Linked DNA regions of Homo sapiens. The protein of the gene in region 2 interacts with the protein of the main gene of each other region in a pairwise test. Each region holds a gene or a part of one and is shown on either strand. Other genes may lie near its edges.

The links. Proteins that work in one complex are often made in the same cells at the same time.
Region 1: the proteins of GPSM1 (region 2) and GLIS2 interact in binary tests that used the Homo sapiens proteins (3 or more experiments, as listed by UniProt).

Annotation. Positions count from the first base shown.
Region 1 is NC_000016.10:4,314,414-4,318,013, reverse strand, and holds the start of GLIS2 (zinc finger protein GLIS2), read right to left. Parts: upstream 1,948-3,600; 5' UTR 1,760-1,947; intron 1-1,759. UniProt on the Homo sapiens protein: Can act either as a transcriptional repressor or as a transcriptional activator, depending on the cell context. Acts as a repressor of the Hedgehog signaling pathway. Represses the Hedgehog-dependent expression of Wnt4.
Region 2 is NC_000009.12:136,351,510-136,355,441, forward strand, and holds part of GPSM1 (G-protein-signaling modulator 1), read left to right. Parts: intron 1-1,526; exon of another isoform or gene 1,527-1,646; intron 1,647-3,272; exon of another isoform or gene 3,273-3,513; intron 3,514-3,932. UniProt on the Homo sapiens protein: Guanine nucleotide dissociation inhibitor (GDI) which functions as a receptor-independent activator of heterotrimeric G-protein signaling.

The sequences.
Region 1 (3,600 bases), on a different chromosome or scaffold from region 2:
GAACTCCCCAGGGGGCCTGGGCCAGGGTCACTCAGGGGCCGAAGAGCCCCAGCTGGAGGGATTTAACACCAAAGGTCAAAGGTCACAGACAGGGAAGGGCGGGCAGGCACAGGGGGTCAGCGCTAATGGCAGCTCCGGAAAGGAGGGGGAGGAGGAAAGGCTAAGAAAAACAGGGTTGCTTCCAAGGGGTCCGCACACCCCCCAAAACACCATCCCAAGTCCCTGGCACTGTCTCCTGCTTGGCTGGCTGCAGACAGGGCCAAGTTGAGCTGGAGGTGGGCAGTGAAATGGGCCAGGCTGGAGCTTGGCAAAGGGTGTCCTGGGAGGGGCCTCCCAGGTGCAGCCCCTCCCCCTGTGCAGGCCAGGCCAGCTAGGAGGCCCAGCCTGGGCTCTGGGGAGAAGGAGAAGCAGAGGGGGAGGTCCGAGGTCACCCGGGATGGGTGTGTGGGCTGGGCCTGGACAGCTGTGGCACTGTGGCACCAGAATGGGGCTTGGGGAGGGGTGACCCAAGGGGCCAGTTTCCCCTCCCCTGAGCCCGGGGGCTGGAAGGCCCTCCGAAGCGCAGTGTCTCTGGGCTTCCTCCCCAGCCGCAGGCTGGCCCCACCTTCCCTCCAGGATGCCAGGACACGCAGGATGGCGGCCTACTACCCAGGGTGCCAGCCTCCAAGAACCATGGCCCAGGCCCTTTCCATGGCCCAGACCAAGCCCAGGCCTTGGCCAGGTCCCCAGCCGGCCTGGCTGCCCCCTCAGTGTCAAGCGTTCCCTCCAGAGCCAAGATCCTGGGCTGTGATGGCTGGGGGCCCAGGGCCCCTCCCAGCATCCCTTCCAGCTTCCCAGGCCCCAGGGCAGGGCTGGGCAACTCCTTGAAACCATTGCTTCCCGGCCACCCTCTGGCCAGGCTGGGCGGGCCCTCCTGGACAGGCAGACAGGCTGCACGCTGCCCTGCTGTGGCCCGAGTACCCTGCTGGGCAGGGCAGCATGCCAAGGCCTCCAGGTGCCAGCCTGGATTCCAGCCCCATCCCAGGGGGCCAGCGGGGAAGCTGTGCGTGCTTCTCCTCCCTCGGGATGCACCTGCCTCGCCCCCTCCTCCACCCGCTCCAGACCCGCCCTCCGGCGAGTATGGACCCCTTGCCATCTCCTCCCTGCCAGGCCGGTCGCCTGCGTCCACCCGGACCGCAGGGGAGTAACAAGTGCCTGACTTGTCCCAAACTCCCAGTCCTGACCCCCCAGGGACGCCCCTTCCCGAGGTCCAAGGAAGGACCCGGGCTTGCGAGGGGCAGCAGGAGGGAGACTCTCCCGGCCAAGGGAGGAGGCACCTTCCAAAGCCCTTCCTAGCAGCAGCCCCGGCGCGGCCGAGAGGAGGGGCGGCTGCCCCGGACAACTTCATGCCCAGGCTCCGGGTACCCCCCTCTCACCTCGCCGCACGCCCCCCACCGCGGCCGCCCAACTTCCCAGCTGAAGTTTGCGCCCGCCCCGGGCCCGGGCGCTGCTCGGCCCGGCCTCCAGACGGAGGGAAGGAAGGAGGGAGAAGAAAGACCGAGAGCTCGAGGGACCCGGCCGGGGAGCCGGCGAGGGAGGGAGCGCGCGAGCCAGCGAGCGAGCGAACGCGGGGGCCTCGGCGAGGGCTCACAATGGCCCGGGGCGCGGACGCGAGCGGGGGAGGAGACCCTCGGGCCCCGCAGCCCCGGCGCGACAGGCGGGCCCCCCCCCCCCCGCCCCGGCCCGGTCCCCACGGCGCGACGCCCGGGGGGCTTCCTACCTCAGCGGCGGGGGCGGTCGGGATCCGGGCTGCGGGCTCCGGCGGTCGGGGGGCGCGGGGAGCCGAGCGGGGGAGGGGCCGGGACGGGCGGGGGCCGGGGCGCGAGGCCTCACGGGGCGCGGGCTCCCCTGGCACGGCCGCCCGGCGCCCGGCCGCTCCGCCACATCTGCAGCTCGGGCAGGGAAGGTGGCCGCGGCGGCCGGGCCGTGCGGGGATGTCTTAGAGGGAGGGCGGGCGGGCGGGAGGAGGGAGGAGGGAGGCGGCGGGAGGAGGGCCCGCCGGCCGCGGAGGAGGGCGAGGAGGAGGGGCGCGGGGGGCGGCCTCCACCCCTCCCCTCGCTCGCTCGCTCCCTCCCTCCCAGCAAAACCCCTCTCACCGCTGCGGCCCCAGGCCCGGGGCGCCAGCTGCCAGGCGGGGCGTGCGCGTCGGGGGAGGGGGCGGCGGGAGCCGGCGCTGGGCCGAGGGAGGGGGAAGGGAGGGCGGCGCGGCCGCGGGGAGCGGGCACCGGGAGGGAGGGGTGAGGGAGGGAAGTGGGGCGCCGAGCCGCGCGCGTCCTCCTCGGCCCCATCCTCACGCCACCCCCCCCCCGCGGCCCCGCCCCCGGCCCGAGGGCAGCGCTAGGACACGGCCGGGAGGTGGCCTGGGGGGGCGGGGGAGCCCGAGACGTCCCGCCCTCGGGGAAGCCCGAGGAGGGGGCCGGGCGCGCGGGCCCAGAGGAAAAGCCCCGCAGACCGGGAAGATGGAGGAGGTCGCGGCGGCGGAGCGGGCGGGGACCCCTCGCCTCCTCCCGCGGGGTCACCTTGGCCAGGCCCCCCTGCGGCCCCGGGCGGCGGGGAAGGCGGCAGGAATGCCTCTCTGCGGGCCCTGATTTCTCCGCCCAGCCCAGTTCCAGGAACGCGCAGGCAGCGCCCGGCGGGCAGAGGTCCCGGATCCCGATGCCGGGCGGCGCAAACCAGTTTTCGGGGCCCGGCGCAACCCCTCACGCTGGTGAGACGGCGGGCGACTCCCTGCCGTGCCCTCGGTCTCAGTTTCCCTCACGGTAGAATAACGACGAGGCCCGATGCCGAGCAATCCGAGCTTCCGCTTGGTTCCTAGCTTGGTCCCAGCATTTGGGACCACCTGCGTCCACTAGCCCGAGCGCCGCGGGAGGTCTAGATCCCTCCTGGACATCAGCACCCTGCGCGGCGCCCGCGGCCAGGGCAGCGAGTGCAGTGAGCGGATACACGCGAGGGAGAAGCCCCGCACCCGGCCCAGCTGTTTTCTGCCTCGTGTTGAACCACAGACTCGCGTTCTTGAGTGTGTTTTGTTTGGGCTAATCCCGTGCCCCCCGCCCTGTTATCTTCTTGCTGCTCTGCTGTATGCTGGCAAATTGTAGTTCAAAAAAACAGCCCTCCTGCTGTTGGACACCCCCTCTTCCCAGCGCAGTTGGCCTTGAGGAGCCTAGGAGACGAAAAAGGCATCCCAGAATCAGCATCCCCTAGAGGTGAGGCATCTGACGCTGGTTTTAAGTCCGTCTTCATTCGTGCATTTGATGCTGCGGTCCCCGCCAGAGCCCGAAGCACGTGGCTCTTGATCACAAGGCATCCATGGCAGGCACAAGGCTTGGCACATAGTAGGTGCTCCTGGGCTGGTGCCCAGATGGACACATAGCAGGTGCTCATGGGTTATGTGGACACACAATCGATGCTCATTGCATTTTAAGAGAATGCACACATAGTAGGTGCTCATGGGCTGGTGCCCAGATGGACACATAGCAGGTGCTCATGGGTTATGTGGACACACAATCGATGCTCATTGCATTTTAAGAGAATGCACACATAGTAGGTGCTCAGGACGTTGTG
Region 2 (3,932 bases):
CGGCCTCAGGGGCTGATGGCTTTCTAGAAAGCACAGCCTCTGAGGGCTTCCAGGCTTCACGTCACCCCAACAAACTGCCCTGGGTCTGGGCCAGCAGGGCAAGGGGACACAGTTCCAAGTGTCCAGCTGCCTGGCCCAGCACTCTGGAGGCCTTGGCCAGGGCCCCAGGGAGCCCCCACCTGCTGCGGGCCCTGCTCCCCTGGCCCCTGCAACCACCGCGGGGCAGGACGCCTGGGACAGCCAAGATCCTGGCCCCAGACAAACGGGGTTCCCAGGGTCTGTGAGGACGTGGCAGGGCCTCTTGGCTTTCTGCTGACCTGAACCCCACTGGCCTTACCGAGGTCAGAACCTTGGGTACCTCCGAGTAAGGACCGTCTGCACCCTGGTGGCAGCCTGTATGGGGACTGCAGCGAGGGTGGGTGGGGGATACATCCCTGGGGCGTCAGTGGCCGGGTGGGCCCCCTTCCCCCTCTGCTGGGGTCCTCAGGGAAGGGCTTTCAGCTCTCAGTTGGGGTCCTCATCTGCAAAGTGCAGCTGATACCAATACTGCGCCGTTGCTGTTGGTGACACCAATACTGCGCCGTTGCTGTTGGTGACACCAATGCTGCGCCGTTGCTGTTGGTGACACCAATGCTGCGCCGTTGCTGTTGGTGACACCAATGCTGCGCCGTTGCTGTTGGTGACACCGATGCTGCGCCGTTGCTGTTGGTGACACCGATGCTGCGCCGTTGCTGTTGGTGACACCGATGCTGCGCCGTTGCTGTTGGTGACACCGATGCTGCGCCGTTGCTGTTGGTGACACCGATGCTGCGCCGTTGCTGTTGGTGACCAACCAGCCCCTGCCCCTCCCCACCCTGTGCCCAGACAGTGCAGGGGCCTTGCAGCCAGCACATTCGGGGCTTTGGGATCTGAGGCGGTGTGGCTGGGTGTGGTCTGGGGGTCCAGAGAACTCATTCTGGGGTGGAGGGTAGGGGACAGGGCAGGGTTGGCCTCAGAGGCTGGAGACAGTGTAGGTCCAACCAGGAATGAGACAGAGAGGCAGCAACCAGAGGCTTGAGTTGAGCTGGCCGGGAGGCCCTTGAGCCAGGGCACTGGGGAGCCACCGAGGGCTGTGGGACAGGAAGGGCCGTCCCGGACAGAGGAGTCCAGATGAGGACAGCAACCCGCCCAGGTCCTCTGCGCCTGCCTCCGTAGTCAGGCTGAATAAAGAGGTGGCTTTCCCCACCTGGCCCAGCTCTGGAGGGAGGCCCAGGGGCCCAGGTGTCAGCGGGAAAAGGGCTCTTCGGCAGGCTGTCTGCCCACACAGCCCTCCAGTGTGCCCGCCCACAGGCACGGGGAGGGGGAGGTTCACTGCTGCACTTGCTGGGGGAGTGTTTACGGAGTGCGCCTGTGTGTGAGTGCGAGCCCACGTGCGTGTGTGTGAGCCTGTGTGTGTGCACGCACTCAAGTGAGCAGGGGCGGGCGCTAGGAGGGCCGAGCCCTTGCCCAGGGTCCTATTTAAGCCTCAGGCATCCCAGCATTGAGGCAGCACTTGGCACTTTGGGCAGGGCGGTGGTGGCCCTGGGCACCTTGTGTCCTGCCTGCGCTCTGTGTGGCCAAGCACCCAGCGTGGCTCCCTGCTGCTGTGGAGACAGCCTGTGATCCGCGTGAGTCTGGGGTCCCTGGGGTCCTAACAGGTGGAGGCTGAGGGAGCACACGGGCCTCTGTGAAGCCGGGTGGGGTGGTCTTGGGCCGGGTGCATTCCCCTCCTCCGCAGGAGAAACTGGGCTTGTGCCAAAGCAAGAGAGACTAGAGTCAGACTGCAGGAGGGACTCTGAGGCCTCCGGGAAGGAGGGAGCCAGGGCTTGGGGCAAGGGAGAGGTTAGAGCAGGGAGGCGGAACCCCGAGTCCCACTGGATATGTTCTACTGGGACATAAATGCAGGGGAAGGTGGCCTTGGGGCCCAGGGTCCTGCTTCTGAGGGGCTCCAGGAGCCCCAAACTATCCAGAGCCTTTCCCCGTACCAGGCACTGAGCCACGGTTTTGCACCTGCAGTCGTGGGCCCCTGCCCCCATGTGAGGGAGGCATCAGCCCCTCAACAGCTGGCCCCAGCCTCAGGGAAGGGGAGGGCTGCCCGACATAGGACCCTGAGAGGGGCTCTGCCATGGGGCCTGGGACATGGCCCCTGACGGGTCCTGCCTTTCCCAGGAGGGACCTTGCTCAGTCCACCTGGGCCCCGGGTCACCTGGGGGAGTCCAGATTGGGCCAGAGGCAGAGGCCCCCCGCGGCTGTGCCCTAGGTCATCATAGCCCAGGAGCCAGTTCCTTTTAGACCAGGAGGCCACATCCTCCTGGGGAGGTACCTGTGTGGCCCCAACTGGCACTCAGGCTGGCAACCCCAGTGCCACCCTCTGCCTGGACCTGCAGCTCCCAGAGCCCTGGCCCAAGTGGATGTGGCCCTCCCCACAGACTGGGCCAATTCTCCCCTCCCTCCTGGCTGGGGAATCCGGGGGAGTGGGGGTGTTGCCTTAGGCCTGAGCCAGGCTGCAGGAGGAGAGCCCTGCGGGGAGAAGGGGGTGCTAGAACTCTCCCTCCTCAGGTCTGCCTCAGGGACAGGAGGTACCTCAGGCTTCCGTGACAGCTGGGGACTGACTCCAGGGGCCAGAGCCAGGTGGGGTCTCTCCTAAAACAGGGCTGTCCACAGGGCCCTCGGCTCAGCTCAAGGGTCTGAATCCCAGCTCTTTTTTGCTCCAGCATGACCTTGGGTAGGTCACACATGTCTCTAGGCCCCACTCTCCTGTGCCCTGGGCCGAGTCCAGCAGAAAACTGGAAGCAGGACGGGAGCCCTAGTCCTGGGCTGTGGGGGTCAGGTGTCGGGAATTCCAGTTGTCTGTCAGACAGCTGTCCGTCTCCTGGGCTGTGGGGGTCAGGTATTGGGAATTCCAGGCAGCATCGGGGACCCGGGAGGTGCCATCTCCACCAACATTGCGTCTCTTGTTAACTCGTTCAGCTGTGAGCCCAGCATTTGCAGACCTGGAAGAGGCCACCAGCCGTGAGATGGACAGGCTGGGGCCGGGCAGGGGCTGCCAGCGCCGGTCGGGAGGTGGACGGGGCTTGGAACCATCACAAACACCCTTCAGCCCTGGGGCCCGGACCAGGCCCTGTGAGGCTGGGTCACGGGGTGGACCTGCTTCAGCTGGGCCCCTTGGGGGGCCACAGGAGACCACGCCCTCCAGCCTCCCTTGTTTGGGTGTGTGGACTGAGGCCCAGGGCGGGGTTCATTCCTTCGAGTTCATTCACACAGCAGACACCGGTGAGGGCTGTGTAGGGCATGGACACAGGGAGCTCATGGCAGGGCTGACACAGGGTGTGGTGGGCACAGGGACAGGAGGCACGGGAGGCTTCCCGGGATGTCTGGGAAGTGTTCCAGGCCAAGGCTGGGGAGGCTGGCCCAGGGCAGGTGACGGACAGAGGCCTGGACTGGGGTAGCACCCATGAGAGGGGAGAAGTCCGGGGCAGTCGGCGGGTGCCGAGGGTGAGTGACACGTCCTGGGGGAGGGGTAGCCGGGTGCCGAGGGTGGATGACACATCCTGGGAGAGGGGTAGCCGGGTGCCGAGGGTGGTGACACGTCCTGGGGTAGGGGTAGCCGGGTGCTGAGGGTGGGTGACACGTCCTGGGGGAGGGGTAGCCGGGTGCCGAGGGTGGGTGACACGTCCTGGGGGAGGGGTAGCCGGGTGCCGAGGGTGGGTGACACGTCCTGGGGGAGGGGTAGCCGGGTGCCGAGGGTGGGTGACACGTCCTGGGGGAGGGGTAGCCGGGTGCCGAGGGTGGGTGACACGTCCTGGGGGAGGGGTAGCCGGGTGCCGAGGGTGGGTGACACGTCCTGGGGGAGGGGTAGCCGGGTGCCGAGGGTGGGTGACACGTCCTGGGGGAGGGGTAGCCGGGTGCCGAGG